Regions from separate parts of the Homo sapiens genome. Here all the other regions are linked to region 3. Evidence: fine-mapped expression QTL. A gene starts in region 3. Each other region holds a variant in brackets. All regions are shown on one strand. Distances are between the middles of the regions.

Region 1 (6,710 bases), 67 kb before region 3:
CACTGTGAGGATCACAGCAACAATGACAGCCAGCCGCACTGTCAGGATGAGAATGTCATCTTTACTCTGATATTTGTGAAGGAGGTCGGACTGCACGTTGTCTAAAATGAGGGAAAAGCAAGAGGGTTTTAAAAGGAGACAAAGTATATAGCTGAATGACAGTTTTTCTGAAAAACAAAGAATCTGTAAACTAAAGGGCAAGAAAAGCAATGTTTCGAAATGTCTATTAAAACAATCAGGTTGGAAAGAAAAATCTCTATGTAAGACATGCTCCACTGTGCATACGCGACTTAGCAAAGAAATTTAAAGTAATCACTGGAAGAAGCTACATGGAGTGGGAATGCTTAATTTAGACTAAATTAAACCTAGGAGTACACTGGGCTCGAGAATGAAACATACAGTTGAAACGCGAAGCTGCTCTTAATCTAGACTTTCCCTCCACTCTTCAAACCACACCAAACTGCCACAGGCTTGCTCAGGGAGGGGGTGGGGTGGGGAGAGCTACAAGCCACCTTGGAGCTTGTTTCAAACTCTTCTCTTGTTAAGTCAACTTCAAGTGGCCAAGCAGCAGAGACACTAGTTGAAATTTCACCATCAGGAAATAATTCCACTCTTTCATGTATGTTGTTCTTGTAAAAAAAAAAAAATTAGTTTATGTACTACTTTGTGTGTGTGTGTGTGTGTGTGTGTGTGTGTGTGTGTGTGTGTGTGTGTGTGTTGAGACAGGGTTTTGCTCTATCACCCAGGCTGGAATATGGTTGCCATAGTGCCATTTTGGCTCACTGCAACCTCTGCTTCATGGGCACAAGCAATCCTCCTGCCTCAGCCTCCTGAGTAGCTGGGACTACAGGCATGTGCCACCATGCTTGGCTAATTTTTGTATTTTTTTTTTTTTTGTAGAGATGGGGGTCTCATTATGTTGCCCAGGCTGGTCTCGAACTCCTGGGCTCAAGCTATCCACCTACCTTGGCCTCCCAAAATGCTGGGATCACAGGTGCAAGCCACCGTACCTGGCCTTATGTACTACTTTGAACTTTTTCTCAATCCAGAACTTCAGAAAGTGTTATTTCAAAGACTAACAAAGCTAGAATGGCAGTCACATAGAGTATGGAACTGCTCACTCTTTTGACAAGAGGTAATTTCCCCTCCTGTCTCCTGCAAGGGCCTCTCACTGCACCAGTCTCAAGGTCCTCAGCATGGAATTCAAATGCTAATCTGTACCATAGAGCTTAGCTTGGTCTCAGTTTCCAAAAAAGAACCATAAGTTATAATACCAATCTCACTAGTTCTAATTTCCTTAATTCAAAATAACTAACCACTTAAAAAATAGCTAATCCTTTTTCTTTAATCCAAGAGTAATAAAAGTGTTTGGTGTTCTATTCTATGTGAAAAATAATGCATCTACAAAGAAAAATTATAGCTTCAACAAGACAACAGTGAGACTTCAACTAACATTAAGTTCTCCGCCTCTCTCTCCCTGTACAACTCTGTATGCACCTTAGCAACACCATTTTTATGTAAAAATTAAATGTGGTATTTATGAATTCATTAGACAATGCCATTCTCTATTGCTAGTGAAAACAATAATAATATCTGTATAATCAGAGTAGCCTTTTTCTCCAGGCTGAATTAATACTTTTTAAATGTGTTTAATTTTGAGACATTTGTGTTTATGAAAAAAAGTCCCAAAGAATTATTATTTAGTAGAGAAGATTGTGAAATACATACATATATATATATATACACACACATATATATACACATATATATAGACACACATATATATACACATATATATATTTAAATTAGGTCCCCAATTATAAAGATAATGAAAGATATTAAATCAAGCTTCAGGATAATTTGAATAGGAGAGGATGAAGAAGCAGTAAACGCCGGTAAACTGTTCATTCAGGGTCAGTAAAAGTTACATATGAAAACTTGTTCCCTTTTTCAGATTTCATTTTTTAAAATTTTCTATCATTCCTTTGGATCTTTGCAAGGCTTCGACTTCCAGTGAACAATTAGAAGTTTCATTTTTAATTAACTCAGAGTGTCATGAGTGTAGCACTCTGCTCTTTCTCACTTTCAGCATCTGTCTCTGTCTCTCCATTCTATTAATGGAATCTGACCCAATTTGCGGTGTCAATTAGGAAAGCCTTCTCTGATGTAGTTTTAAACCTTCCTCAGTAAAGGTAGCATGCTTCTAAAATGCAATTTCTATTAAGGACACTGTTAGGAGAAAAAAATTATAAATATTGTTTGAGTAATTATTTTATTCGGCAGTCTGCATGAACATGAAAAGATCACCATTGCTTTAAGTCGAAGAAAAAACTAGAAAAACCAATGGATAGCTTTGTTGCTTTCTTTGCCTTTCATGTTAAAAGTTATTTCAACACTAATTTTTACTAATTTGTTTACAAATATTTATATTTATGTACCAGTAGAAATTACTTACCATAGAATGTCAAGTAGCCAAAAATGGCAGTCAAGAAGTACATAACAAACATGGCGAAAAAGGAGATGTTTGAAACCATCTGCATTTTTTTCTGTGATCGGCTAAAAACAAATAAATGTTAAAAATTAAAAATCATATGACTGAATTTAAGCACCAGTGTTAACATTGAAGAATACTAATTTAACTTTGCTTCTGTCAGGTTAGGGAAGATCTGAACAGCTGAAATTACCCCTGGCAGTTATGCCAGTTGAAAATAACCTCTCTTATACTGAATTGGTATTGAGGGTGAGATCTGTGGAACTACACTCCCGTTAGCGTTCTTCCCCATTCTTTTAAAAGAATATCGAGTTCTCATCGGAAGGGCAGACAGCATTTTTTTAATATTTGTGCTTGATATTATCTCCACACTAGCTGGGCAAAGGAAAAAAGGCAGAAAAAAATCAATGCTGTTCTCCTAGCTCCAGAGATTAGTGGCAGAGCTGGAACTTGACCTCAGGTGTTCTGTCTCTAAAGCTGCTGTTTCAGGTTCTGATTTTCCCATTGGGTGGCCTCAGGGATGCACCTGGAAGTCTGTAGGTCTCCAGCGCAGCAAGTGCCCAAGAGATCACAGCTGGAATGATGAAGGGCTCCATCTCTCAGGTCAAGTTCACTCTGGGGTTGGGATGACCCTCTAAGTTTCTTTAACTGCCCAAACAATTAATCTGCAACACTTGTATTCAATAAATAACAGACCACAGATAGTCATAACATTTGGTTATGTCAAGGAATCTAGGATGCCATAGAAGTATGGAAAACAAGAAAAA[C/T]GGAGAAGTAGGCCCCGCGCGGTGGCTCACGCCTATAATCCCAGCACTTTGGGAGGCTGAGGCAGGCAGATCACCTGAGCTCAGGAGTTCAAGACCAGCCTGGGCAACATGGTGAAACTCTGTGTCTACAGAAAATACAAAAGTTAGCTGGGCATGGGGCATGTGCCTGTAGTTCCAGCTACCTGAGAGGCTGAGGTGGGAGGATTGCTTGACCCTGGGAAGTTGAGACTGCAGTGAGCTGAGATCACACCATAGCACTACAGCCTGGGTGACAGAGGGAGACTCTGTCTCAAAAAAAAAAAAATAAATAAAGAAAAATTGAGAAGTATACGCTTGAGAAAATTAAAAACTAAAACTAAAAGCTGAACTATTAAAAGACGCCAAAGATATATGAGTGGATTCAATGCTAAATGACATCAACTTTGTTTCAAACTGGAAATAAATACTGATATTGTCGATCTTTTCTAAGTTTTTAAGATACGCTATTGTGACTATTTTTGTTTATGTTTGATAACCATAGGCTAAAAAGAGACATGAAGAAGTTTATAAGCAGGCCTTAATTTTCTCAAAACCAGCAATCAAAAATAAATCAATAAATCCATAGAATTTTCTTAATAGTTAAAAATGAACAGCAATATTCTCTTTTCCTAGTTTGTGGTCTTAATATTGATTTCTTATTGTCTGATTTACTAGCCTTTTCACCCAAACCCACAGGCAAATCAGAGACGATGTATTTAGCAGTTTACAGATAAATCTGAAGATTATCACCCACTTGCAAAATACGCATACGTAATGGAAAGCAACACAAATACTTAAACTTTCCTCGGTGATACAATATTTGAAAAACCAAATTAATGAAAAAGCCCACATGGTTGGCTACTTTTTATGTTTATGGCCCCCCAAAATACTGCAAGTTTCTGATTTTTCTTGCTTTCTTGTTTCTTAAAATACAATGCTTGTTTAAGAATGGCACAATGTGAGTAAATGTTGAAGCTGGGTGATGAATCCGCTGACGTTCATTAGACAAGTCCGTTTATTTTAATTGCATACTTGCCTATTAATGAGGGGATGTAAAACGATTAAGATAAAAAATTAAACAAATTTCTTACTCTTTAAGCTCACTGTAAATTGGCAGGACTGACGGGTGGCAAACAAATGCAAATGCAATGGTGGGTAAAGCATACACGGTCTATTTGAGAGAAAAGAATAGACATTAGGAAAAACACTTTTACCATAAAAAGGACATAGCTCCAGTATTTCTGAGCTGTCTTTTTATCTGACAGCTCTTCAGAATCCCTGGATTATTCGGTTATTAGGGAGGTTTTGATCTCTAAAGTAGAAGCAGCTTTTCTAAGACAGCTTGTCTAGCTCGAGCCATTAGCCACTTGTCACAGAGGGACTTCGGATTTGGCTCACCTATGGTGTATTTTATATACTCCAGGTATACAACACCCCCTGTTTATACAGCATGAGCCAGTTACATGGCACTCTTCCTAGGATAGCTCGCTGGGTCCCCACAGCAATCCCAAGCAGTAGGCAGACTGTGGCTGTTCTCCTGGCTCCCTCCAACAGGTCAGGCGACTGGCCCAGCACTCCCACCTCTAGTTTACTGCTCTTCGCTCTACATCAGGTGCATGGAATCGGACTTAAAAGATACCCTCTGAAAAGAAAATCTGTTCCATATTGCACTACTTTGGCTATATCCTTACAATCAGAGAGAAGGAGAAAGATCGCGATCTATTTAGTTTTCTTAGATAAGGCTCTTTGAAACTCTCACACTCAATCTAACTTCCTATGCAAAAAGAAGTGAAAACTAACCTATCTTATGCCCTAACTCTGCTGATGCACTATGCCAGGCACATTCTAACAAAACCTTGTAAGATACAGAATAGAATACTTATTTTTACTCAAGGGGTTGGGTGACTTGCCTGAGGATTCAAATCCAAGCCTGACTGACTCCATAATCCTCTGTTTCCCATTGTATCAACAATATTTTAATAGTATGAGAGTTTTTTAAGTGCCAGTTTGTGGTGGCATCTATATTTCAACTGTGCAACCTGAGGAAGTCTGCAGTATTCCTTTCTGTCATCGCCAGAAGAAGGGAGCTAAGGATGTTGTTAGTCTGTTTTTGAAGTATCACCTAGCACTCTACACAGAAAAAGCTGAGACAATTATCCAGAATGGGATTTTCACAGAGAATGCTTAATGGTAAGAGAGAGTGTAAAATATAATATTTGTATATTTCTCAAGGATCTCTACATAGATGTGTAATCTGGAAGCAATGGTATCATGTGTTCTTTTGAGAACTAATACATTCAAACCAGTGCAATTACAAGCATGAGAAATAGAATGTCCTTAATAAAAATGCTTGTTTCATCTGCAAAGGATCAGGAAACTTACCTTTGAATTGAAGGTAACATATTTTGGCGTACACGTGTCAGCATTTGTTGAATTAGCACTTATTGTTGAATTTAGCTCTGGAACAATGCAGGGAATTTGAAATTTCTTGTAAATAACCTGGTATTAAGAAGTATAGTAGAAGCAATATGGACTTTAGTAAAGCCAATGAATAATTATTACATGCCATTGTACTATCACAAAACCAAACCAACCATTGCAATCAGCACTTACCACAATTAGGAAAAAAACCATACAGCTCAAGGAAAATCCACTAGTATAGCCAAGATACCCTTTAAAAAAAAGTAAAAAATAAATTATTTCATTTTTTTCCATTTTTAAAAATTTTGGAGCTACCCATCATAAACTGTTATTATTTCAAAATTCATCACCTCACTTATTTCAGTGCATTATTTGAAGCATATTTTAGAGATCCAATAATAAACATACATGCCCAAGTGAATACAAGATTTATTATTTGACAGTGCTACTTTATTTGGCAAAAAAATGGGGCTCTGAATAGAAACATTATATTACGTGTTTTGATTCCAACTCTCCCTGGCACACTAGAGAACACAGATTCCCAGAATCCAGCAGAAAAGAGCCTTCCAATTTTTGCTGTAAGTCTGTGTTGGTGGACCCTGATGGAGTCCTATGGGCAAACCCATTTACTCCTTGATCCCCTCAATAGCTCTTTATTATGCACTTATTGTGTGCATACTGAATGTCAGTTATAATACTTTTCTCCCCAGATGACAGAGAGTAGATGAAGCGAATTTCTAGTGGTAAATTGAGTATCTGGGGCTCTTTAGTAGCTCCCCTTAGAATGCCTGGGAGATCTCCAATTGCTACCATGACCTCCAGAAAGGTAGAGTTAAGTAGCCTCTCGGGACTGCATTATTTTCAACCCAGGGGAAGAGCTTTTCTCTACTTAACTGAAAAGAGCTACCTCTATAGGTACAGAAAACACAGAGGCAGAAACCAGAAAATTAAGTAGTTAAAAAAATCTATTTATAAACCTCACAGAACAACTACAGAGCTGTTTTGTTTTGTAT
Region 2 (6,710 bases), 86 kb before region 3:
AAACTAAACATTTTCTTCCTGCTTTTCACTGAACTCTCCCCCACCCCGAGTTTAAACACTGTGACTGAGTTACCTTTTTGACAGCAATGTAGTTATTTGCATAGGTTCAACAAGAGTCTTTTTCTTTCCCGGTGCATAACTGGACAAAATTGAATGTCACCATGGCCTTACTTGGAAGATCATATGTGAGGATGATGGTCATTTAACAGGTATGTCAAACAACTCCAAGGAACAAAGGTTAATTTTATTTCTGTAGCCAATGCCTACAAAACCCTGGCTTAGTACCAACCTTCTAGGGTTGTAACCTAGAGCCTAGTACCTAAACTGGTCTATAGGATCCTATTATGATGGGTGGTGACAAAGAGCACTTCCTGGCAGGCCATGAACCTTAGTAAATTTAAGCGACCTCAAGTAGAAAGGAATTCATCCAAATCTATAGATGGTATAGGTGAATACGGTGGAGTCTCTCGGGCTTGCTTTCCTAGCCCTGAGCTAGCAAATGATGGAGACTTTTTCCCCCTCAACCCATAGAGACTTTTAAAAGTGCAGTTCTGTGGCTCCAGTAGCTGTTCAATAGTACATAGCTCTAGAATTGCAAACCAAATTCAAGGAAGCTTATGTGGTTAATTAACACCCTTGCCGCACCCATGCAAATAATCAGGCCAAGGCTAATGGGACCATTCTTTTTATGACCAAGAATAATCTTTGAGATTTTTATAGTCACAAAGGGGAAGTTGTTACGGAAACTGGAAAGACTTTAAAAGAAGCAAAAAAGATTACTGGGTGGGTGTACTTTCAACGAAATATTATATGCTGCTTCTGGGTTATCTGATTCTATAAGAGTTTTGCCTCGCACCCCCTTTTTTTGTTTTTTGAGCTACTTTATAACCCTCTAAATTGTAGAAAACTGAGAGATGGAAATGATTATTGTCCAGACATACAAAATAATTCTGTCTGATTAAGATGCAATTAATTAGATGACGAGTTAGTGGGTGCAGCGCACCAGCATGTCACATGTATACATATGTAACTAACCTGCACATTGTGCACATGTACCCTAAAACTTAAAGTACATTAAAAAAAAAGATGCAATTAATTTCCCCCTGTGGACAGGCCAGTTTTGCATCTATTAGCAAATTCATTTTAGAATTCCTGATTGCTGATATATGTATCTGTTCTTTGAGTTCTCCTTTGGACCAATTTTTAAACATATTACTTGTTCCTTAATTAATAAGCTAACTAAATTTTTTGACACATACTTTATTTAAGTCATGGTTTCATGCTTATAAAAATAGATATATTTACACATGTGTTATTTAAAGTCTTTAATATATCTAAGTTCTCTTTAGACATAAGGGGTAATATAGAAATCTGGTTTCATTTTCTTCAAAAACTATGTATTTTTTCCTATCATTTATTAAGTAACCTTTATTTTTCCCCATTGATTTGAAAGGCCACCTTTCTGGTATTTTTTGGATCATTTATGCATTCACTATTATGATCTATTTATTTATTTGTACCCAGTTCAATTCTAAGTGCTATGGCTTTATATAATTTGGGTAATTTGTCAGGTTATTTTGGTGGTGTACTGACTCTCCCAATGAGCAGATTATTCTACCAACTTGGATTAGCCTAACATGTAAACTAATAAAAGATTTTTAAAAATTGATATTCAAAAATTGGCCTAGTTATTTGGGCCTCATCCACCCTTTCCAAACTAGGTAGAACACAATTATAAATCTAGAAAGTAAGAAAACAGGACATCTGAGTTGCAAAGTTATCATTAAGCCCCGTGATGGTTAATATTAGGTGTCAACTTGATTGGACTGAAGGATGCCTAGATAGCTGGTAAAGTATTGTTTCTGGGTGCATCTGCAAGGGGGTTGCCAGAGGAGATTGACATTTGAGTCAGTGGACTGGGAGAGGAAGACCCATCCTCAATGGGGGTGGGCACCATCCAATAAGCTGCCAGCATGGCTAGAACAAAGCAGGTGGAAGAAGACGGGCTAAGCTGGCTTGCTGAGTCTTCTGGTGTTCATCTTTCTCCCATGCTGGGTGCTTCCTTCTATTCCTCCTGCCTTTGGACATCAGACTCTAGGTTCTTTGGCTTTTGGACTCTGGGACTTACACCAGGGGTTTGTTGGGGGCTCTCTGGCCTTTGGCCACAGACTGAAGGCTGCACTGTCAGCTTACCTACTTTTGAGGCTTTTGGACTCGGACTGAGCCACTACTGGCTTCTTTCTTCCCCAGTTTGCAGACGGCCTATTGTGAGACTTCGCCTTGTGATCATGTGAGCCAACTCTCCCTAATAAACTCTCTTTCATATATACATATATCCTATTAATTCTGTCCCTCTGGAGAGCCCTAATACAAGCCCATAGTTAATTCCATGGGAAAGGCAGAGAATAGCTCTTCCCTGACAATTCTGTGTAAAAAAGGACGGAATGGAACAGTATTAGCAAATACTCATGGAGGGAGAGTAGAAGGAAGAAGCCAGAACTATCAAAGGCACTGCAGGACTGGCCCTTTCAATTTGGAACAAAATCTGCTCAGATTCTCAATAGTCTTTTAACTTTTACCACTGCTTGAGTTTAAAAGTGCTAATTACTCACTCACACCCTTTGCCCTTGGGGTTTTGATCAATTAAGAAGTAGGCATAGGAAGCATGTAAGGATAAAAATATCAGCTTTATTCCTAACGAAGTTATATTGGAGAACATGACTTGGACTCCCGTACCCCAGGTTTCTACTTTGAGTTTTGCGTGTGTGCCACCGAGGCCCTACAGAATGCACTGCTGTCACCTGGGTAGGCCAGAAGAGTTCATCAAGGGGGTCTTCATTCCCAGCCACACCGTAAAAGACCCAGGCTATTCCTGTGCTAGCCCTGTCCACAAGAAGAACTTGGATATCAGACTTTGGCCATCTTGCTGGTCTGGTAAAGCCTTTCTAAGATGCTGGAGAGGAGTTGGTGATGGATAAAAAGACAAGGCTGCACTAGCTTTGACCCAATAGTTACTGAGAAATGAAGTGTTGATAGAATTTCTTCTTTTATAGGTGGCAGCAATGTGGGTAGAGGAAGACTCAACTCCTTCCTACAACACAGGGCAGAAATTAATACTTATAAAGGTAAACTTGACTTAAAAAAGAAAATATTATGGTGAATCTACTCTGATTATGAAGAATGGAGAAATGTGGTATATGTTTCAGACCAGATAGATTTCTATCAGAAGTATTTTTAAAAATATTTACGTTAGGGTGCTTAAATATATAACCTTCTATGATCTAGAACACTGACAAATATGTATAACCCTTCTCCAGCAATCCTGAATAGTGTATATAGTACACAACTGCCCCATTTTAGTATTGCATTGCAAAAGAACAAACACAACATTTTTAAATACTTTTAGTTCACATTTTTTAATGTTTAAAAACTATGTTAACAGAGCAGTTATAGAACAGAACTTCTTATATTTCTTTATTTACACCACACTCTGAAAAAAAAAACCCAGTTCTATTTGATTAACTATGAATAGCAAAGTTTTGTGACTTGTGACTCACTTAAATCACCCATCTGAAATTCATTTACAAGGTTTTTACATTAATAAAACAGTAGTGTGGTACAT[G/A]TATTGGACTCAGATGAAGTCTAAAGTACACTGGACTCTAGAGAGTGGATTACATACCAACGACCAAGATTCAAGTGTTTGGGGAAAAAAATACCTTAGACAGTCTATGTTGGCGTCAACACTAAAATAAAAGGCAAACATGCAGGACTTTCAAAGCTTGATTAGATAATGGTTCTTTGTTTTCTTTCCTTCAAATTTGTGCTCATAATTAATATTCAGGTTCCCTCTCCCCGCTTTCATAGATCCCAAAGTTTGAGAAATGCAGCAATTCAATTGTGAAAAAAACATTCTTCTCCCCAGCTTCTGTTTTCATATGTACTGTGTAGTGGTATCAGTGTTAAAAATGGAAGATCATTATGAAGAAACAATTTGTCATTTGGGTATATCTGTTTCTATAGGACAAGGATTTGTGTCTAAATATTCCTTACTTGTATCTCAGAGGACTATCTGTTAAATAATTGATCTTAATGCCAGCATAAGAAATCAAGGGAACTATTTCTCAGACATTTCTTTCTCTAAATTAAGTAGGGTTTCAGGTTCCAAGTTTACATTGAGAGAACTATGTTACCTGGGAGAGAATGTAAATTTTTCTAATTCCCAAACAAAACCACTAATTTCTAGGAAACATTTATTGTTTATATGCAGATCCTAGAGACTTCTATTTCAGTGCAGATCAACAACTTCAAAAATATACAGCCTCCTATTTATTTACAATAATATTTACATACAAATGAAGTATTTCCTGCAATAAGCCTCAGCTGCATAGATTCTTCCTTTAAAAACGTAAATTTGAGCCTGTATACAGATGGGCCCAGTTTCATAGCCCTTCCTTAGATAAAAGCCTAAAGAAGGAAAATGTCTGCACCTTGTGAACTTTACATATTTTGCAAGAACTTTCTCTTTGAGATTTAGTGATAGTTTTTAGTTGTTAGACACCCCACCTTCAGCTTGTACCTGAAAGCTTTATCTCGTTATAAATAATTCACTGTAATTTAGGGGAAGTATGTCCTGTTGCTAAAGGATTCTCAAACCTGCCATCCCCAAGGAAAATCATGTATTAGTATTGCTAAATGATGGTCTGTATATTCTTTGTTTTGAAGGTGGCTAGATGTTTGCTGTAAACTTGAATGGGAGAATTATATTCTTAAAGTTTACACCCCCTATAAGCCTAAAGCCATTTAAATTGATAAACTGAGAGAGACTAATAGATTTTGCTCTAAGGTATAAAATCCATTATCTGATCATATTCCTGACCTCCCCCCGACTCCAACTAAATGTGCCATAGTCCAACACTGTGCCTCACTGAATTGGAACTCAGTATTTCATTCTTTTGAGAGCAGTTTGTAGCTCCTTAAGCAGAGCAGACCTTTCAGTAGAGAATTCGCTTTAAAAGGAGGACAGGATTATCACCACACGATTAACACAAACACTGGAGAACTTCTGACACAAATTCAGTATTTCTTCTAAGTCTGCATTTACAAAGGGTCTTTTATTTTAATTTCTTTCACAACTGCCTCGCCCCAACCAAAGCCTCACTTTCATTTCCTCACAGCTTTAAAAAATAAAATATTATCATGCCTCAGCCCGAGGTAACACCGAGTGCAGGCAGCCTGTGTTTAGGAATTTGCACCTGCGCTGCTATTTTCAACGAGAAGGGGATAACCAGGTGGCAGCGCTGGATTCACTCACTTTCTTGCCATTGCAGAGACCCCTGCCGCCAGGCTCCTTTCCTCCCCTCCCTAAAGCCTGGCTCCTGTATGTTGCACCATGAGTCCTAGGAATCATCTGGTGAGGGAGGACTAATGGGAAGTAAAAGGGAGACTCATTGGCTTAGGGTGGTTCTCAAACTTGATGCGCTTTAGAATCATTTGCTGAGTCCCTCCCTGAGAGCTTCTGACTTCACCATGTCTGGGAGGGGGCTGAGAATCTGCATTCTAATGAGGTCCCCGATGATGCTGATGCTACTGGTCTAGGGGCCACACTTTGAGAACCACTGGCTTAGAGGCATGAATCAAGCTCTAGAAAGCAGTCAGTTCCAGGGTAATAGTCTTAGGTGCTCGCCGAAGCACTGAGGAATCTTACCACAACCCTGTGTCCACCACAAGCCCTATCACCATCACCCATCTGGGTGCTTCTTTTTCTCAACAGGGTCTGTAACTGTAAAAAAGGAAAGTGGGTGGAGAGGTTTTTTTTTCCCCCTTTTTTCTTGTTTTCTAACCTCCCAGCTTATTCCTGGAGAGTTAAAACACAGTTACTAGCACTAAAAACATTAAAAGTGCTGCGCGCTGGCCTCAATGACTGGTACATTGGAGAAGCTATGCAGCAGCATCCTTTTCTGTGGTGGGCAGGGCAGGAGATGAACCATAGGAGCCAAAAGTCAGACAAACAGAAGAAGGCACACCAAGCCTGAACCCTCCGGACAACAGCAGAGTTACCAGCTGAGGGATGTCCCTGGAGGTTTCTGACCCATGAGAGGCCCCCTCACCCTCCTTCACCCTCCTCCTACCACCAAGCTCTCCAGCAGTCATGGACTTATTCCTCCCCGTTTTTACTGGACACCATGTTTCAGGCCAATCTGGTCACCTGTAGTCTGGTGGCATCTCTACCCCTACTGTCCAGTAGGTGGGATGTGGCTGGGATGGACAGTCCAGATTCTACTAACAGGCAACTCTGAACAAACACCCTCCCTGGAAACAATATTATATTTGATGGTTAGATTCTTTAGCAAACCTATTACATTATTCGATGTCAGCTAACCTATTGGTTTGATCATCTTTTCCAGCTGCTCTAGGGGCCTAACCACCATGGATAACCTGGTCTCTAAAGGAAAATACATTCCAGGTTGCAAACAACCAACTGACAACCTTTTGGAATATGATCTCCTTATACACTGGGGCTGCCTGTGCCTAAACACAGTAGATTTCCCTCCTGTGCGTATTTCATCAGCCCCACTTCCAATAAGTAACATTAAGTAAATTAGGGATTGACAGTATTCTGTGTTACAATAACTAGAGAACAGTTCTAAGTCCAAAGTGTGGAACTGGCACTGTTCACTAGTATAGAGATCCTACCTACCAAAGGAAAACGT
Region 3 (6,710 bases):
GCCTGATCAAGGTCTCAAGGTCTCGATCCAACAAGTATTTATTAAGCAGGTACTATGTGCTGGACATTAGAGGAACAATGAGTAAAATCGGTTTTTGTCCACAAGCATCACCCAGAGTAAAGAAAAGAGTAGCAATAGTCAGATATCAGAAACATGGTGCTCCTTTCATTAAATGGCCTTAATTCATGAAGCATCATAAAAAATATACATAAACAACATACATATAGGTTTAAAGCTCCAAAACACCTTTAAAATCTATTCATCTATCTGTTCAATTATATTACAGTCAAAGAAGAGTGCAATAAGTACTTGCTGTTCCTTCTTCCTGTTCCTTCCGCTGGCCTTCTTCCCTCAATTATGGAAATAGCTGATCCCTTTTCATCATTCGGGTCTGAGGACAAATGTTATACCCTCACACCGCCCCTCCCGGTGAGTCACTCTATTTCAAGCATCCTCCCCCATCACATGATCCTGTTTTATTTCTTCATTGCACTAAGAATACCTGAAATGTATATGCCTACATTTATATAGTCTATTTCCCCCTGAGAACGGAAGCTTCATAGAAGGTGAAACAAATCTTGTTAGTTGCTGCCAGTCGCACAGTAAGCCCTCTGTAGAAAATGTTTATTGGCCACATTTTTTTAAAAAGCGAATAAACCTCAAGATTAAGACCTCAAACCAAACTATTCCAGTTTCCAATTGCTTACAGCGACATACTGAGAAATCGAGTGACTCTCAAGAGAAAGGCCATTTTGAGGCTGGGGTCGAACCAAAATCCAGGGGGTCCACACCAGGTCAGTACCCCGGAATTGGCTGTTTTGCAAGATTTCGGGAGTACCAAATTGGCATGAGACATTTGACAACGAGGCCAGCCATGCACCGAGCTCAGGTTTTATTTCCGTTGTCCTTCTGACGTCAGAAAAAGCACGAGTTGCTGCACAGTTTCTTTTATCAAGGTGACAAATTACACCCTCGCTGGGCCCTGCATTCTGCAAACCATAAATTTATTTTCCTCCTCCCCCTTATATTGAAAAATGTAAAAACCCACTGCAGAGAGGTCAAAACCCCTTCCAAACGCAAATAAATACCGTTTTCTAGCAGAGGCGTCTTTTTTCACTTTTGCTACACACATCACCGCGGATTCGTCCGAGAAAGTACGTGATCCTGGCGGCAGTTAGGTTTCTAACAGAGAACGAGGGTTTGTACAAACCCCGGGTCCGCGCCGCAGAGCAAGACAAAGGACTCTGAATTGTAGCACCACCTTCCCCAGCCCAAGGCAGCCTGTGAAAGGCACTGGGAGCGGCGTGACGCGGGTACCGCGAAATTCCTTTTGCTGCCATATGCACTTGTGCCTTCTCTAACTACAGTTCAGCACAAACCTCAGGCGGGCGATTTGGCAGGCAAACGGTGCCCAGGCAGCCGGGTAACCTACTGGGTCCCAGTGGGTGCTGGGGAGCCCCATGCGCCAGGAGGTGGATAATTTAGGGGGCAAGGGGCTCGCACAAGGGCGAAGATGCGCTCTCCTCCCGGCACCGACCCACGCGTTTAAAGGCCTCTGCGGCAACGTTTAGGGACGCGAACTAGGTGCCGGGGGTTGGGGAGGAGGTGGGACTGGAAGCGAGAGCAGTCTGCGCCCAAGACCGCGCAAGAGGTGGCCTTTTGTTCGCTGGCTCCAGCACATCCCGGCTCTCGAAAAAACACTACCTCTGTCCCCTGCCACCCTCTGCATTTTAGAAAATCCTCTTCAGGGCAGGAAAGGACAGTGAGTCACTGCAAGCATCCTTTAGTAATTTCTCCCCGCGCCCTCCTACTTCCCCGCGTTACAGAGGGGCAGAGCACCAGGAAGGACGGCAAACATGCCCCGGTTTAGTGGTGGTCCGCGGCCGCTACCCAGCCGGCCGCACGCAGCACCCCCCGGACATCACACGATCTCCTCTGGGCCTTGCGGACACAGGAAATTTTCACCAAAGGCCGGGGATTCAAACACTCCCAGAACACGGTCGCGCCCTCGGGTCAGCTGCGCTCTCCCTCCAGACGTGCGTGGTTCCTGGCTCTCGTAAAAATGGAACCAGATCTGGTACCACACTCTGCCACAGCCACAGGAAAACACACCAAAGTCACAGGAAAACAAACCAAAAAGTAAGCCACAGCCCACGCAAAGGTGAACTCGGGGGCCCTGGCGCTTCCTCCCGCTGCCGCGTGCGTTCGGGAAGCACAGGAGACCTGGACTTTTCCTCTCCTAAAAGCAACATCCGAAAGCATCGGGCACAGCCGAGCTCTCTCTGCTTTCACGCCCGCAGAGATGATTTCTACGTTACCTCCTCCTCCGACATCTAAATCTCCCCTTGCCGCTCGCCCAGCCCTCCCCGGGAACGGATAATCACCTTACCTCCGGAAATAAAGGGAAAGGTGGCAAAAGGCGATGTGGAGGTGTCCGCCCTTCCGGGGTTTTTACCCTCGGCAGTTTGATGTCCTTTGTGTCAAGGTCTGGCTGCGGAGGCCGGGAAAATGTGGCCCCCGTCAGTAAGGGTTGGGCAGGGAGCTTGGCGTGGCCTGGCGGATTTCGGAGGAAGGTGAAGGGCGGAGGCTCCTGGCGACCTTCTGGCGGAGTGGCGTGGCCGCCCCAGTCCGCGCTCGCCTGGCTCTCCTCCTTTCCGGGCCGATTGCATCAGAATCTCCCCTCACCACCAACCCCCACTCACACTCTGCTCGCCGGCCTCGCACTTACATCGACATGCACCGGCGCTGAGGGTCACGAATCGGAGTCATTCTCCTACTGGGGGACGCGTGGCCCTTCCGCAACCATGGCTTGTGATGGTTTAACGCGGACAGGCCATTCCTCCCCGTCCCGCGCGCGGTCTCCTCCCCTCCTGTGCGCCCGCTCTTTAACCAAAGCTGCGTGTCAGTGAGCCGTGCCGGTCACATGGTGTCACTGCTGGCGGCCGCACCTTGCTGCCTCCCTCTTGCAGCTCTCTGACGATGCAGCGACCGCGGCTGGCGGAGATTGAGCAACGGGGAAAGGGTGAGGGAGGGGTTGCGGGGCGCGCGTGTGCCCGGCGCACTGAAGCTGGCACCGGGAGCAGAGGCTGCGCGCCGCCCTGGCACCTGCCCCTCTCCCTCCCGGGGCCCGGCGGCGTGTTCGGAACCCAGCTGCGGCTGCAGCTGGAGAATGAGAGCCCTTAGGGATGGGGGTGGGGCGGCTAAAGGGGCACCGGCGGAGGACAGGAGGGCTGTGCGTTCCGCTGGGGCCTGCATTTTGGGTACGCCAGAGCCCCGCCGGGGCCGAAGGAGCGAGGGAGTTGCATTGTGGGAAGGGCGCAGCATGAGGATGGCCGCGGGAGTGGCAGGTCCGAGCGCAGCCCGGAGAGCCGCGGGCAGCGCCTGGGACTACGGGCAGCGTTGGAGCGGAGGGCTGGCCCTGGGCACAGCCTGCAGATGGCCCGGGTTGGCGGGAAGGGGACCGAAGTGGCAGGGGCGGCGGGGAGCTCGGGCACCTTTAAAAACCCTTTGTCCCTAACCTGAAGCGGGAGGCACCTCCCCTCTTCCGGATCCAGCACCCGCAGACCTGGTCAGCCCTTCCTGAGATCTGCCCTGTGGAGCTCTGCTTTGGGGACTGGGTGTGAGGTGAACCAGAAGGATTTGCTGAGCACCGAGAAAGCACCGGCCTAGGCGCAAAGAGCCGGGGGCCAGCTCTTGGAGGGCCTGGAGACCCCACGTGGTCCCGACCGAAGGACCTGGTGCGTCCAGGTTAACGGAGCTGGGGCGCTCCAAGTCCGGGGGACGAGGGAGCGGCATGGAGGGGAGCAGGGGCAACTGGGCCTGGTTCCCTTTTTTCCCGCTTACTCTTTGTTTCAGACACAGCCCCCTTTCACTGGCTGGGCACTTGCTTGCAGAGGAGTTGTGTCTTAAAATGGCGACAGGAAATCCCACCTGCGCCTCAGCCAATTAGACTGTCATAGCGCGAATTTGCAGGGTGGAAACGCGAGCTTTTTATTGATAGGGAAGGTTCAGTCTCCTGTTCATGGTTCATCAAAACAGGAAAGGGAAGGTGAATCATAATTCAAAAATTAACTACCTGGAGCGTTTCAAGTAGACAGTAGTCATTGTATTTGGGTGAATTTTGCTTTTTCATCACCACTGGAAAAGCAAGATGATAACCAAATTTGAAACTCATCACGGACTAAACTTCTTATTCCCTTCGAATGGCAGTAAATGGCCTTTATTAGTTCAACAGTGGCTTCCTGAGAATCCTATTTAGAAGGCATGCTCTTGAGAAATACTGAAAAACAGAAAGTTCAGAGCAAACCAAAAGGGCAAACACATGGGCAGCCTAGCTCAGACAGACCTGCATTCAATTTCTTCCTCTGACACTTACTGCTTCCCTCATCTGCTTTACTTTTGTCCTAATCCTGTTTTCTAAATTTGTGAAAAAGGGGAGAAGAGTACACACAACATAGCAATATTCTATAGGTCATCAAAAAGTTGGTTCTTTCTACCTTACTAGAGGAAGCTAATTTATTGTGAAATTAATGATTTTAAGTAGTGTGCACCTTGCCTGGCACAAATAATTCTTATCAATAAGGTAAGAAATCTGAATAGGTAAAGTAGATGAACTGTGAGCCATAGCTTAATAGGCCTGTTGGAATATTTACCTTATTAAAGGCAGAATGTGTATTCATCGCTGTTTGGAGATTATCTGAACCAAGCTTGTCTTTTGGTTCCAATTTTAACTTACTTGCTAGTTTCTGTATATCAAAACGACTGCAGTTATTTAGCACTTTTTGAATTGGAATCAACAGTTATGAACTGAGCTCCTATGATATGGCAGCTATTGTGCTAAGGACTTTACATGTAAATATCTCATTTAAAGCTTTCAATCCCTCAGTTGGGTATTATCCTCTTTAAGAAAACAAGTACAAAGTTGAATTGGCCATGTTCACCTAAGACAGTAATTAGTGAAGGGGAAGCGATTCCCTTTCAGGTCTGAATTCAAAATCCGTGCTCAGTCTTCACAGTGGTGCTACAACCATTTGCAATCAGACATTCTTGGGCCTAGAGTTAGAAGGATCTTCACCCCTTCTCTGGATTTTAGTTGACAACCTAGAACCAGAGTAAACATCAACATGGAGGCTGCTGTTTTCTCAAATTGAGGCCAGGGATGTCTAGATGATTCCTCTATTCACTGTGTGCTTACTGAGAGACAAACAGCAGGTTAAACACTTCACAGATGGTCTCTCGTTTAATTCTCATGACATTCCTGATAGGGCAGCCTATCCTAATCCCTGACTCAAAGGTTAGGGAATTTATCCCAAGTCCACACAGCCCTAAGTGGCACATCCAAATCTTGCATCCAGAGCTGACTGGTAAGCCAGTTTTCTGTGGCTGGATCTAAAACGTTCCCTGATTCTGGAATAACCATCTTTGGAGGGTTAGTGGGTGGAAGGGGTCTCGGGCCACTCTGTCTCTGAATAGGAACCACTGCCCTATTTCAGTAGAGTCCAGGGAGTTAGTTTTCTCAGTAATAGGGTTGTGAGGTCCAAGAGACTTGTCGATAGTATCTAATGTTATTTGTGGACCTTTCCCATTTGAACAGATTTCCAATGTTATTAAGGTATTCAGGACACATTACCAGGTTTGACTGCAGACTGCCCTATGGAACTGAGAAAATTCTGTATCTGCTCTGAAAGTGATGCCAGGGAAGGAATTTGTACTATGAAAATAGAATTGGGTAGCTTTAGGTCACCTGAGAGTTTTCTTGTAGCCCCCATAGCTTGTTTTTGTATGGTTCCAGGAAGGTGGGGCAGCTTTGTGAAGAAAAATCAATTATACCCCAAAGAGGATTCAGCCTGAGCTTAAGCCACATCTGCTCTCATCCCAGCTTCACCCTGTACTCACCCGGGTTGCACTTGCTCCCTACCTGGGTTGCCCAGTAGGACAGCTGCAGAAGGGGCCACTACCAGCTGTGCGCTTACAGAGAATATGTGTTTTCCTGCACTGGTGTTCAAAGCTTTCCAAATACATCTGGTTTGATACCAGCAGTCTTCTTGTATAAGAATTTTTGGGTAATAAGATCAAAACTATTTTCTGAATACAGTGTTTTTTAAAAATCTGTGAAGGACTATCAGTGGAAAATCTGATTTTTAACGATGATGAAAAAGTAGGAAAGTCAGCTGGTGAGATTATCTCAGAACAAGTGTCCTGCATATCTCCTACTTGTAACAGAAAACACTGCAGCTGTTAGATGAACAAATCCAATCTCACTAGAAAATAAATTGTTTATTCTGCAGTCTTTTGTTCCTATTTATAGGGTCTACCCTAAACAACAAATGGTCTTTAAGATTACTGGTTTTCCTTGACTTTCACATTTCTTTGCCTGATTAACCCTTTTTATCATCCTTGATGTTCTTTGAATCTCATCCATAGATGACAATATTTTGACACTAGAAATTAGTAAAGCAGCCATAGGAAAAAGCGCATTTGCAATTAAAAGAGCTCCCAAATTGTGTTGGTCAGCCTTCTGCAGATACATGGCACTGTGTGCCCTAACATTCCTTGGTGGGTAGCACTGTGTCAGGGGCAGTTGTTGCCTCTTCCACCATTGAAATGAACATTCTACCTCACCAGATTGAAAATTGGTTCTTGCAAGAGGTCAAATACCCCCACTGATTCTAAACTGAAGTTAAATTAAAATCCCAGAACAAAACTATCTT
Region 4 (5,703 bases), 130 kb before region 3:
ATAGACATACAAGGTTTTCCTATTCCTGTATTCAGGATTAATGTGCCAAATTTAGAAAGTCAAATGAGGAAACAACATATTAAATGGTCAAATAGACCATTAGAGTATAAATGTGTTAGATTCTCTGGGAGAGGCAATAAATAATGCCCTCACCCTTCTGAGTTGGGAATAAACTGAAAGATAGAAGATCAATATCTCAGTTACTAATAAACGTGATTAGACATCACAACATCTATCTGTGGCTAGACAAGCTTCCTGATTTCTTGTCCCTGAACAGAGTTCACCCATGTGGACACTGGCAGGGCTGGACCTTCGCATGCTGAATCTCCCTCCCAGGGGAAGGCCACTTCCTGCATGTTGGAGCAGAGAATGTGTTTGTTCTGGTTCAGGCCATTCTGAATGACAGGGACTGAAAGATACAGAGAGACAGAGGCTGTGCCCTGCACCCCACAGAGGCTGTGCTCTGTACCCCCAGTTCATGCCTCATAATCCCAGTTCATTAATTGAGTAGGTCATTTCATTTCTCTTGGGCAGGTATGATGACAGGGATGGGAGGGAAAGAAAAAGCTCTTCTTTCCAACACCCAGAAAAGGCAAAAGCTTCTATTTTATGTGTCACTATAAAAAATGTTGAATTGTGGAAGGGAATGGTTTTCCCTGCAATATATTTTATTTTAATTCCCTTTCTTATCATTTACTTAAATCAGATGTTGATCCTACAGTGCCAGGCATTTAGCTCCATAATGCTGTTGAATTGAACAATTGTAAAATTGTGGCAAAGTTTTTGAATTCTTTTATGAGAAGTGGTGGTGGTCATGGTAGTATATTTTATCTAAAGACATACCTTAAAGATATGCCAAGCAGTTAAAAAAAACTGTTAATAAAGACTCTTATATCTCCCAAGAGTAAAATATCAGACCCTTTTGAGCATTTTCATCAAGCAATCAGTTAATTCATTGAAAAGAGATAATCAGATAAAGCATTTGATTGAAATGACTTAGTGTTTAGCTGAATTGGGTAGCTGCTTACAAGCATTGACATCAGTTCTGTTGGGGTTGTTAATCCAGCAGCCCTGCAGAGACACAGAACCACTCTTTCTTTGTCAAGCCACAGCATAATAAAGTTTTGTCTTCATTTTCCAGTTTCATGTGGAAATGTTTAAAAGAATGCATCGTCTAAAATTTTTCTTAATTGTAATTATGATACATTATCCCTTGTACAAAGCAGGTTGAGTATTTTCTTTTGGGCCCTAAGATAATTTCAGGCCTTTATGTATCCTCTGGCTTTTCCTGAAGGTCCAATCAGGCCAAATGAGAAACAGATCTTTACATTAGATTTGTTTAATAAACATGCTGTTCAAAGAATGGCCGTTATGTAAGAAGTATCACTCTTTGAAAGGCTGATTTAGGGGGTCTCTAGATTATGTTGAAATCCAGTCTAGGTTGGTGGTGATTGGCCAATGACATCTGCAGATTATTTTCCCATCCACAGGAAATGCGGTGGTCCCTTCTCAGCATCTCAGGGCCTTCCAGCTGGTACCAAGTGTTACCATTGTTGGCAAATCCAGCAGGAGGCCAGGGACAGGGTAGTCACTGCTGTGCTCCCATCTCTGTGTGCACTCGGGTGAGGAAACACTGTCACACCATTGTGAGGAGGCTTGTTACCCTGCGTGTGTGGCCCCCAAATCAACAGTACCAGGGCACCTCAGCTTTGGTGTGAACTGCCTGCCCTGTTCACAGGCTCCAGTCCACACATCACTTAAATCAATGCATTTTGTCTTTCGCTTGTTTGATGGACTTCATTTTAAATAATGTATCATTCCCCAGGTCCCACTGAAAAAGTATTACATTGGCCACAGTTTTGGCAGAGACTATGATTACTAAGGCTGTTATGCTGAAACAGTCCTGTTACAGAAAGCACCTAAATAGGCTGTTTACTGGGAATAATAGACTCTGGTTTGCATATGACTTGCATTAAAGTTGCATGTTGGTCACTTATAGTCAACAATCACAGATGTCTCCTCACACTGTAATGCTCTTTCTTCTCCAGACTCCTTGAACACTCTACTTTTTTAAACTTAACCCTCCTTTGACTCTCTGTCTTCTTCACTTGAAAAATCATTTGTAGGAAGGGCTCTGACTAGAACATTGACATTTCACAGACAATACAAAGATGACAGACTATTGAAAACCTACAATTTTATTAAATAAAGTTTTTAATTTTTAACTTTTGTGGGTATATAGTAAGTATATGTATTTATGTGGTACATGAGGTATTTTGATACAGGCACACAATGTGTAACGATTATATCAGGGTAAATGGGGTATCCATCACCTCAAGCATTTATCCTTTCTTTCTGTTCCAAAGAGTCCAATTCTACCCTTTTATTTATGGTAAAATGTATAATAAATTATCGTTGACTATAGTCACTCTGTTCTGCTATCAAATACTAGATCATATTCATTCTATCTACTTTTTTGTACACATTAACCATCCCCACTTCCCATTCCCCCATTATCCTTATCAGCTCTGGTAATCATCATTCTCCTTTCTATATTTATGTGTTCAATTGCTTTAATTTTTAGCTCCCACAAATAAGTGAGAATATATGAAGTTTGTCTTTCTGTGCCTGGCTTATTTCACTTAACATAATGATCTCCAGTTTCATCTATGTTGTTGCAAATGACAGGATCTCATTCTTTTTTACGGCTGAATAGTACTCCATTGTGTGTGTACCATATTTCCTTTACCAGTTCATCTGTTGGTGGACACTTAGGTTGCTTCCAAATCTTGGCTATGGTGAATAGTGCTGCAGTAAACATGAGAGTGCAGATATCTGTCTGATGTACCAAGTTTCTTTCTTTTGAGTATATACCTAGCAGTGGAATTGCTGGATCATATAGTAGCTCTACTTTTAGTTTTTTGAGGACACTCTAAACTGTTTTCCATAGTGGTTGTGCTATTTTACATTCCCACCAATGGTGTACAAGGGTTCCCTTTTCTCCACATCTTTGACAGC[A/G]TTTGTTATTTGCTGTCTTTTAGATAAAAGCCATTTTAAATGGGGTGAGATGATACCTCATTTTGGTTTTGATTTGCATTTCTCTCATGATCAATGACGTTGAACACTTTTTCATATACCTGTTTGCCATTGTATGTCTTCTTTTGAGAAATGTCTGTTCAGATCTTTTGCCCATTTTATAATTGGATTATTATATTTTGTTTCTTTAGAGTTGTTTGAGCTCCTTATGGATTCTGGTTATTAATCCCTTGCCAGACGGATAGTTTGCAAATATTTTCTCCCATTCTGTGGGCTGTCTCTTTACTTTGTTGATTGTTTCCTTTGCGATGCAGAAACTTTTTAGCTTGATGCAATCCCATCTGTCCATTTTTACTTTGGTTGCCTGTGCTTGTGGTGTATTACTAAACAAATCTTTGCCCAGACCAATGTCCTGGAGAGTTTTCCCAATGTCTTCTTTTGGTAGTTTACAGTTTGATGTCTTAGATTTAAGTCTTTCATCTATTGGGGTTTGATTTTTGTATATGGCAAGAGATAGGGGTCTAGTTTCATTCTTCTGCATATGGATATCCAGTTTTCCCAACACCGTTTATTAAAGAGACTGTCTTTTCTCCAATGTATGTTCTTGGCACCTTTGTTGAAAATGAGTTCACTGTAAATGTGTGGATTTGTTTCTAGGTTCTGTATTCTGTTCCATGTCTGTTTTTATGCCAGTACCATGCTGTCTTGATTACAATACCTCTGTAGTATAATTTGAAGTCAAGTAATGTGATTACTCCAATTTTGTTCTTTTTGCTCATGATAGCTTTGGCTATTCTGGGTCTTTTGTGATTTCATATACATTTTAAGATTTTTTTTCTATTTCTGTGAACAATGTCATTAGTATTTTAACAGGGATTGCATTGAATCTGTAGATTGCTTTGGTTAGTATGAACATTTTAACAATATTGATTCTTCCAATCCATGAACGTGGAATATGTTTCCATTTTTTGGTGTCCTCTTCACTTTCTATCATCAGTGTTTTACAGTTTTAATTGCAGAGATCTTTCACTTCTATGTTCATTCCTGTTATTTGAATTTATTTGTAGCATTGAAAATGGGATTACTTTCTTGATTTATTTTTCAGATTGTTCATTGTTGGCATATAGAAATGCTACTGATTTTTGTATGTTGACTTTGTATCCTGCAACTTTACTGATTCAGGTCTAACAGTTTTTTGGTGGAGTATTTAGGTTTTTTGAAATATAAGATCATATCCTCTGCAAACAAAGATAATTTAACTTCTACCTTCAAATTTTGATGCCCTTTACTTCTTTCTCTTGTCTGATTGCCCTAGCCAGGACTTCCAGTACTATGTTGAATAACAATGGTGAGAGTGGGTATTTTTGTCTTGTTCCAGATCTTAGAGGAAGGGCTTTCAGCTTTTCCCCATGCAGTGTGATACTACTGTGGGTCTGTAATATATGGCTTTTATTATGTTGAGGTATATTACTTCTATACACAGTTTTTTGAGGAATTTTACATGAAGGGATGTTGAATTTTATCAAATGATTTTTCAGCATCAACTGAAAAGATCATATGGTTTTTGTCCTTCAATTTCTTTCCTAATTTCTTAATTGACCCAGTGGTAATAAAGATCATATTGTTTAATTTCCATGTGTTTGTATAGTTTCCAGAATTTCTCTTGTTATTGATTTCTAGTTTTATTCCATTGTAATCAAAGAAGATGCCTGATATTATATCAAGGTTTTTTGAATGTTTTAAGACTTGTTTTGTGACCCAACATATGGTCTATCCTTGAGAATGATCTAGGTGCTCAGGAGAAAAATGTGTATTCTGCAGCCCTTGGATAAAATATTCTGTTAATATCTATTAGGTCCATTTGGTCTATAGCACACATAAAGTCCAATGTTTGTTGATTTTCTGTCTGGATGATCTGTCCAATGCTGAAAGTGGGGTGTTAAAGTCTCCAGCTAGTATTGTATCGAAGATTATCTCTCTGTTTAACTCTAATAATATTTGCTTTATATATCTAGGTGCTTCAATGTTGAGTGTATATATACTTACAATTTTATATACTCTTGCTACATTGATACCTTCATCATTATATAATAACCTTCTTTGTCTGTTTCTTCAGTTTTTGTCTTGAAATCTATTTTGTGTGATACAAGCATAGCTACTCCTGCTCTTTTTTTTTTGGTTTCCATTTGCATGGACTATCTTTTCTTCATCCCTTTATTTCCAGATTATATATATGAAGTGCATTTTTTGTATGCAACAGATCATTAGGAGTTGTTTTTTTTAACCCATTCAGCCAGTCTATAACTTTTAATTGGAGATTTTAGTCCATTTTCATTATAATTACATTATATTATTGATAAGTTAGGACTTATTCCTGCCATTTTGTTATTTATTTTCTGGCTGATTTCTGGCCTTCTCTTCCTTCTTTTCTTCCTGTCTTCCTTTCTCTGGTGGTATGTTTTGATTTCCTGCTTTTTATTTTTTTGTTTATCTGTTTTATGTTTTTTGATTTGAGGTTACCAGGGAGCTTGGAAATAATATCTTATAACTTATTATTTTAAACAGATGATAACACTGATTGCATAAACAAACAAGCAAAAAAACTAATAAAATTTCTACACTTTATTACTCTGCTTTTTAACTTTTGTTGTTTCTATTTATATATTA
Region 5 (6,710 bases), 58 kb before region 3:
TTAACATTTTAAAATGTGAGATGCAACCATCATTTCTCCTTTTTCAAGTTGGCTACCAGAGCATTACAATTAACCTATTAGGTCATAAGGCTTATTTTTAACTACCTCTATCTTACAAAGGGGAAATTCCTTCTGTGATCTTTTTCTTCAGGTCTGGTGTACACCATTAAAATACATATTTGATTTAAAAAGATCCTAATAGTTGAAACAAAAAGATTCCTTTTGAATTAATGACCTGAACTGATTAGGCAAACAAGGAATTATCTTAATAACATCCCATCAATGCCTCCACGTTCTAAATGTAATAACAAGCTTAGAAACATTTTAATAGCCACGACATACAAAACCTAATTATTCATAAAATGTAGTTCAAATACATGCAACTCACAAAAGAGAGCAGAAGACTAATCTGTCAAAAGCATAATTTGTCTGTAGCAAAATTTGAAAGTGTTCGACTAGCTCATCTCAATAAATACTGAAACTCTAAAGCATTCACTTTTTAAAAAGTGTTTATATTTCTTTATAACTGTTCAGTTCATGTTTTCAAAAGGTTCACGGAGAGCAATATGGGACAGGCTATAATTAAACCTTTGTTTAATCTCTCATAAGACTGGTGTTTAAACTAGACAATGGTTAGCTCCTCAATTTATTATAAAATGTTCCAGTTAAATGGAGTCATGTATATACAATAATAGTTGACCAATGTGGTTTTAGTTAATGTAAAAGTCAAAGAATTACAAACATAATCCAGTGTCCCAGAAATAGAAAATAAACACTTCAGGTATTACACTGCCCAGAGTACTTGAAGTCTCTTCATAGCTTGCTCACTCCCACATTGCCTCAGGAGTAACACTTTCTCCTTGGAATATGCACAAGAGAATGACAGGTCTGTTTACTTTTAAAACCTTGGAAGTTATAATATAAAAACATGGGATCTTTGTTCTGGATTTATAAAGACCTAAGGAAAAACAAGCTTTTAAAATGAAGTCATTTTAAACCAGAAAAACAGGTATAATTGAGGGTTCACTTTAAGTGACAACATTATTTTCTCATTGTCCATGACAATTTAATTTATATTTTGCTGCAACTGTTTCTCTAGATAAATACTACTATAGGTCTTCCAATCACTCTAGGTCAAAATAGTCTTTCTTTTTAATAATCAAATTGCTGTACAGAGAGAACATCATTGTTCCACAATGCTACCATAAAAATAATTCACCCTGGTTTTAACAAAATCAAACACGTCCTCAGCTTACCTGTTTCTTTTGAACAGATCAATAGGAGGTTTATTGAATATATAGACAGCAATGTCACTGAAGTCAAAAGTACCCTAAAGCAAAGAAAATAAATCTTATTGTAATATCTAGAAAAGAATATATTCTGGCATTACAGTTTAGAAGGGCAAAGGTTTATTTGTATGGTTAACACTATTTGTTAATAGTATCCAAATTTTGGAACCTATTAGTCATCCCTGCTTTAAAATCCTCAACAAAAATGTCCTACCAAATAAAGAAGTGCTCATTAGAATCTGAGTAACAGTTCAAATCCTTTATGTAATTCGAAGCCCAAATAGCTCTCTGGGAGCATTTCGGTTGAGATGACTTTAAAACAACATTATGAAAGAAGGCTTTTGTAGTCTATGTTGCACTCTCTGTTACATCCGGGTGAGAAAGTGTGAGAATGGGGTGGGAGGGGCGGAGGGAAAGGCTGGCAGTGACCTTAGGAGAATGACCACCTGACTTTGGGCAACTTGCTTAACATTCCCATCTCTGGATTCCTTGCCCATAATATAAAGATACAAGCCAAATGATGTCTAGGGTTCTTTTCATCTATTACTTCATGGCTATTTTAAAATCTATATATTGGGCTACTAATGTAATTCACTTTTTTTGCACCTGGTTCCTCTTAGATGAATAAGCACCACTTGGTAACCAGTGGGAAAATTTGACAATCAAGTATAATGAAAAGACTTTTTTGAATGATGAACTCATGTTTTTGTTTTAGTACATCTGGGTCATTATCACACCCTTCTCAAGAAAAAGTGCAGTTAAAATGATGTGGGAGATTATATAGATGATTTCTGAAACATTTGGTTAAAACAGACATGATAATTGAAAATAAAGCCTATTTATTAAAAAAGAAGAAAAAAAATCCAGTCCCCAGATGAAACCGCTCACTTCCTGATGTGGGAAAATATATCCCTAGAACAATACATAACTGCAATTGACTCTATGTTTGAGTCATGAAAGGCAATTATTTTTCCACCAAGTGCTGTTGAGAGGCACTTGGCACATCATGCCGTTCGCTCTGCGTGGGCTGCTTCCTCCTGGCCCTTCCCCCTCCCAGCACACCTGTTGAAGGCTGCTCTAGGCCCCAGCTCAGATGCCAACTCCTCAGTTGCCTTCCCTGGCCCCAGGCAGAATGACTGCTCCTCAGCTGTCTATGATCCTACAGTGTTTTGTTTCTCCTGCATACGGGGCAACCATGAGGAGATAAACCAGGAGTACAGAATGGTCAACAGCAGAACAGATGAACTGCCAGAAACTGGCCAGCAAACAAAAGAGGGGCAGAGCTCAGCAGAGGCAAAACAAACACTAGGAGAAAGAACAGACCTAACACTTTGGGTAGAGGCCCAACTGATCTGCCAATAAACAGGAATTTAGGTTAAGATATGATTGGTAAGGAAGTACATTCAGATCTATACTTATTTCCCTAAAATCCTTGAGTGAGGAGGCTGATTGATATGGTTTGGCTGTGTCCCCACCGAAATCTCACCTTGAATTGTAACTCCCATAATTTCCACGTGTTTTGGGAGGGACCCGGTGGGAGATAATTGAATCATGGGGGCAGTTCTCTCATACTGTTCTTGTGGTAGTGAATAAGTCTCATAAGATCTGATGGTTTTTTTATAAGGGGAAACCCCTTTCACTTGTCTCTCAATTCTCTCTTGTCTGCGGGCAAGTAAAATGTGTTGTTCGCCTTCCGCCATAATTGTGAGGCCTCCCCAGCCACGTGGAACTGTGAGTCTGTTAAACCTCTTTTTCTTTATAAATTACCCAGTCTCAGGAATGTCTTTATCAGGAGCATGAAAATGGACTAATACACTGATTAAGAGGGTAGGTCTCTTATCTCTTCAGGTTGAGGGATGTGAGAAACGGACAGCAAGCATTTATTAGCCAACCCAGTAGTTCTGAGATACGTAATGGAACAGGATTTGATATGCTCTGCCACAGAATAAGATATGGGACCTAATTGTGGCATGATTTTTTTTCCCGTCAAGTAAGATAAGCAATATTTATGTCAAAGAAGCAAGCTTTCGGTTTCTTGCAGAGTTCACTTGTTTTGAGGGACACAATGCTAAGTAGCCACTTCTACACGAACATGTGACAGGCCCTAGAGGATTTCCGTGTGGCACAGAAGAGCACAGGCTTCCTAGTGGAGTAAAATGAGTGACATCTTAGGATGAGCCAGATGCTATTCTGGAATGACTATGTGCCCTGTTGGGTCTACTCTGCTAGGACCAAAGGGATTTTCCCATGGGCCCAAGGCTAATGTATAAAGAGTATGACCTTGTAGGAACTATCTATGTGCCTAGCAGGAGGGGATAATTATGAATATCTACACAATTATTTACAAAAGGCCCTAACCCTGGAGAACT[T/C]GGTATTTATTAGCAAAAGAAACATTCTAAGGAAACATTTGCTGTGTTCCCTCAGTCAGTAGCCTCTGCAACCACGCGGTTCTTGCACATGGTTGTGTCTTAACACAATCTATGTGTTGAATCTCTTTGCAGATGATGCTCAGTGGCATCTGGCCCTTTGAGCATCATAAACTGCTATCCCCCCTTTTCAAGCCGGAGAAAAGTGTTGATTAGGGAAGATTTTAGTAGTGTTCACTTATCTTCTTCCCCCCACTTAAACACAACAGAATGAGGTGCTCCCACAGTGGTGAAAACAACCCCCTCCCATGTTTAAGAGACGTAACATTGCACCCCAGAGTACTTAGAGTCTGATAGTTTTTGCCTTTAACTGTCTGATCTGCAAAGGATCTCTTCTTAGTCCTTTCCCAAATGTAGATCTTCTCTTCCAAGACTGAAAATTAATATAAAGCAAAACCCCCTTTTCTATCAGATCACTAAGAGGCAAACTGTAAAAGTAAAATTCTAAGAATACTTTAGCCTATACAAGAATCTGGCATTAATAGGATTAAAATTTAGAAAAGTATACCTCCTTGTTCAGATTCTTAGAAAGAAGGAATATGTTGTCTAATTGACTCTAATAGAACCTAGAAAGGGTTAGAAAAATCAAATCATAAATGTCTTGAGACACAGAAACCATGACATCTAAGAGAAAGAAGAAAGAGGAATAACTGGAGAGAAGGTGTTGACTTGTTTGAACACTTCTATTTAGAGCATGATTATGCCCCTAATTGTCCGGGTAGATATTTGTACATATAATTATGGTTTCCTGGAAGAGAAACACATGCTGGGATTCCTGTGTTAACACAGAGGAACACAAGTGATTCCTTTTTAAAATTTCATCTGGATATAATTTAAGCTTCAACATTGTTAACCACTGACCACAAGTATTAATATGGCTGGGACAAAAACTGGTTGCTAAAAAAGGCGTACTTACATGGGGACTACAGATCAGCAATTGATAATAGGGCTGCCAAGGTGTTGATATTTCAGACTTATGTTCATCTTTGAGGAGAAGATCTAGAGCATGTAATTGTACATGGGTCATGGGGAAGGGGTGGCAAGAGAGTTAGAATTGCGAATAATGTGGTCAGGAGCCTTCAAGAGTCTTTGAGTCAGCAACATTATGAAAGATGTGGTTCAGGACATTCTAGTAAATTTTGGAGTCTCCTGAGAAGAAACTTAGAATTCTAGACTCCTGAAGCAGGGAGAGACTTTCAGAGAGAACCTAGTCCAGCACAGCATGTTTACCCAGGACAGGAAACCTCTATGCTCCATGCCAACACACAGGCATCCAGGTCTGCAAAGTGTCTTTTAAAAGGGGACATATTATGCAACCCATTCTGTTTCTGAAAAGTTCTGTGCTTGGAACTGAGGCTCAGCTGAAATCACTGTCGCTACTTCTATCCTTGGGTCCTCATTTTACCTTCTGGACCTATTTGTATCTACTTGAAATCTAACACCTCTCCTACCTAACAGTCCTGAGGGTGCTCATTTTAAGATTGTGCTCTTTAACTCAAACATCTTTAATTCTTTGAACTGTTCATCTTGTGATGAAGTGTTTGGGCTGTTTACATCTCAGTCATGGTCCAGTTCCTCAACCATCCTTTTTAAAGGCTGTGTGCTGAGATGAACACAATGCTATAACATCAGATTTGGTCCAAACAGCGCAAAGCATGATAGGATTTTTAATTTCTCTGAGTCAGACATCTTTCTTCTTTCAAGGTAATCTATTTTGGAATTCATTTTTACGGCAACCACACACTTTTCATTCTTTTTGAGCTTCTGGTGTGAATGCTACTAGGCTGTCTTCCTGATTCTATCTTGTGTACTTTTTTTGTCTGTTTCTGAAGCTAAGTGCCAGTCCTATATTTATTTACATTACATTTTATCTTTCAAGTCTCATGATCTCTTCTTAAATTGTTGATCCTTTTTACTTATATATCAACCACTGCATCTAACTTCATATCTTAAGTGTACCTTCATCCAAGTCACTGGCATCAACCTTGAATAGAACAAGACCATCTGGAAATGGCCCATTGTCCAGCCAACTGCTTGAAGCCTGGAAGTCGACCTTATCTCTCACCCATTCCCTCATCCTTTATATCTAGTTCATTGGCAAGTGCCCTATCATTTCTATCTCCAAAATTTATCCCAAATCCATAGGCATTTTGTTCCCATCTCCACTCTAGTGTGAGCCATCGTCCTTAATTTCTGGATAACTGTGATCATCTTGTCTCCTCACATCCGTCTTCCACCCAGCAGCCAGAGTAATCTTTTTATTTTATTGCTTTATTATGTGTCTCCATCACTAGACTGTAAGACAGACAACGACAGTTTAATTCAACTATTTACCTATTTACCTTCAACATCAAACACACACATAACAGAGTCTTCGCTGAGAATCAGTGAATTTAGAAACATTAGAACCTCATTGGCAAGTTATGTGAGACTATGCCAAATATCTTAACTAAAATCAAGACTCCCTCTATGAAGATAGTCCCATGATCTACTTAGCTCACTGTATCTCAAAAGATGATATTAGTTTAGTGACTATTTAGAAAAACTTTGTTGGTTTCTACAGAGTAATCTTTTCTGCAGTCATTGCACATAAACAAGCTGTTTAATAATTTTCTCTACACTATTCCTTGGCATCTACTTTTTGCCATTTTTGAAAGTTGGGATTAAATTAGCCTATTTCTAATCCTCTGGGGATACTCTTGCTTTCCATGATTTTTAAACAGATTCCTGAGAGTATCTTAGACAAAGTGGCATGAGCAAAAAAAGAAAAAATGAAAAAGATTTGTCACAGTGGTCCTAGATATATTTACTCTTTTTGCTGCAAGAAAATTTTGACTCATCTTTTAAACAACGAACATCTAAACATCGATTTGAAAAACGTTATTTGTCAATGTTTTGAATCATATTAACAGAATTGTAATTATTTGGTCTTCCATAATTTACCCAAAGATTATATGAATAATGTTATTATTTTCATATTTAAAAGTACCATATG

The links.
Region 1: its variant is fine-mapped to the expression of SLC38A1 in monocytes after LPS (Fairfax 2014, PIP 0.94).
Region 2: its variant is fine-mapped to the expression of SLC38A1 in whole blood (INTERVAL, PIP 0.97).
Region 4: its variant is fine-mapped to the expression of SLC38A1 in whole blood (INTERVAL, PIP 0.99).
Region 5: its variant is fine-mapped to the expression of SLC38A1 in whole blood (TOPMed, PIP above 0.99).

What each region holds. Positions count from the first base shown.
Region 1 is chr12:46,198,643-46,205,352 of GRCh38, forward strand. It overlaps SLC38A1 (solute carrier family 38 member 1), which reads right to left. Exons shown (of 17, transcript NM_030674.4): 10 at 5,890-5,948; 11 at 5,659-5,775; 12 at 4,368-4,447; 13 at 2,456-2,556; 14 at 1-101. Among named protein-coding and RNA genes, the nearest start is that of SLC38A1, 67 kb to the right of the region's middle. The variant C/T (reference allele first, on the strand shown) is at 3,259.
Region 2 is chr12:46,179,666-46,186,375 of GRCh38, forward strand. SLC38A1 (solute carrier family 38 member 1) reads right to left here. Exons shown (of 17, transcript NM_030674.4): 17 at 3,398-6,710. Among named protein-coding and RNA genes, the nearest start is that of SLC38A1, 86 kb to the right of the region's middle. The variant G/A (reference allele first, on the strand shown) is at 3,623.
Region 3 is chr12:46,266,137-46,272,846 of GRCh38, forward strand. It overlaps SLC38A1 (solute carrier family 38 member 1), which reads right to left and starts at 2,907. Exons shown (of 17, transcript NM_030674.4): 1 at 2,390-2,907. LOC105378248 (a long non-coding RNA gene) reads left to right here and starts at 2,935. Exons shown (of 2, transcript XR_001749101.1): 1 at 2,935-3,022. RefSeq lists enhancers at 398-1,381, 2,307-2,366, 2,365-3,347, 2,487-2,536, 2,587-2,686 and silencers at 3,097-3,276, 3,357-3,456.
Region 4 is chr12:46,136,129-46,141,831 of GRCh38, forward strand. No RefSeq gene overlaps it. Among named protein-coding and RNA genes, the nearest start is that of SLC38A1, 130 kb to the right of the region's middle. The variant A/G (reference allele first, on the strand shown) is at 3,019.
Region 5 is chr12:46,207,798-46,214,507 of GRCh38, forward strand. It overlaps SLC38A1 (solute carrier family 38 member 1), which reads right to left. Exons shown (of 17, transcript NM_030674.4): 6 at 1,257-1,330. Among named protein-coding and RNA genes, the nearest start is that of SLC38A1, 58 kb to the right of the region's middle. RefSeq lists an enhancer at 117-206. The variant T/C (reference allele first, on the strand shown) is at 3,659.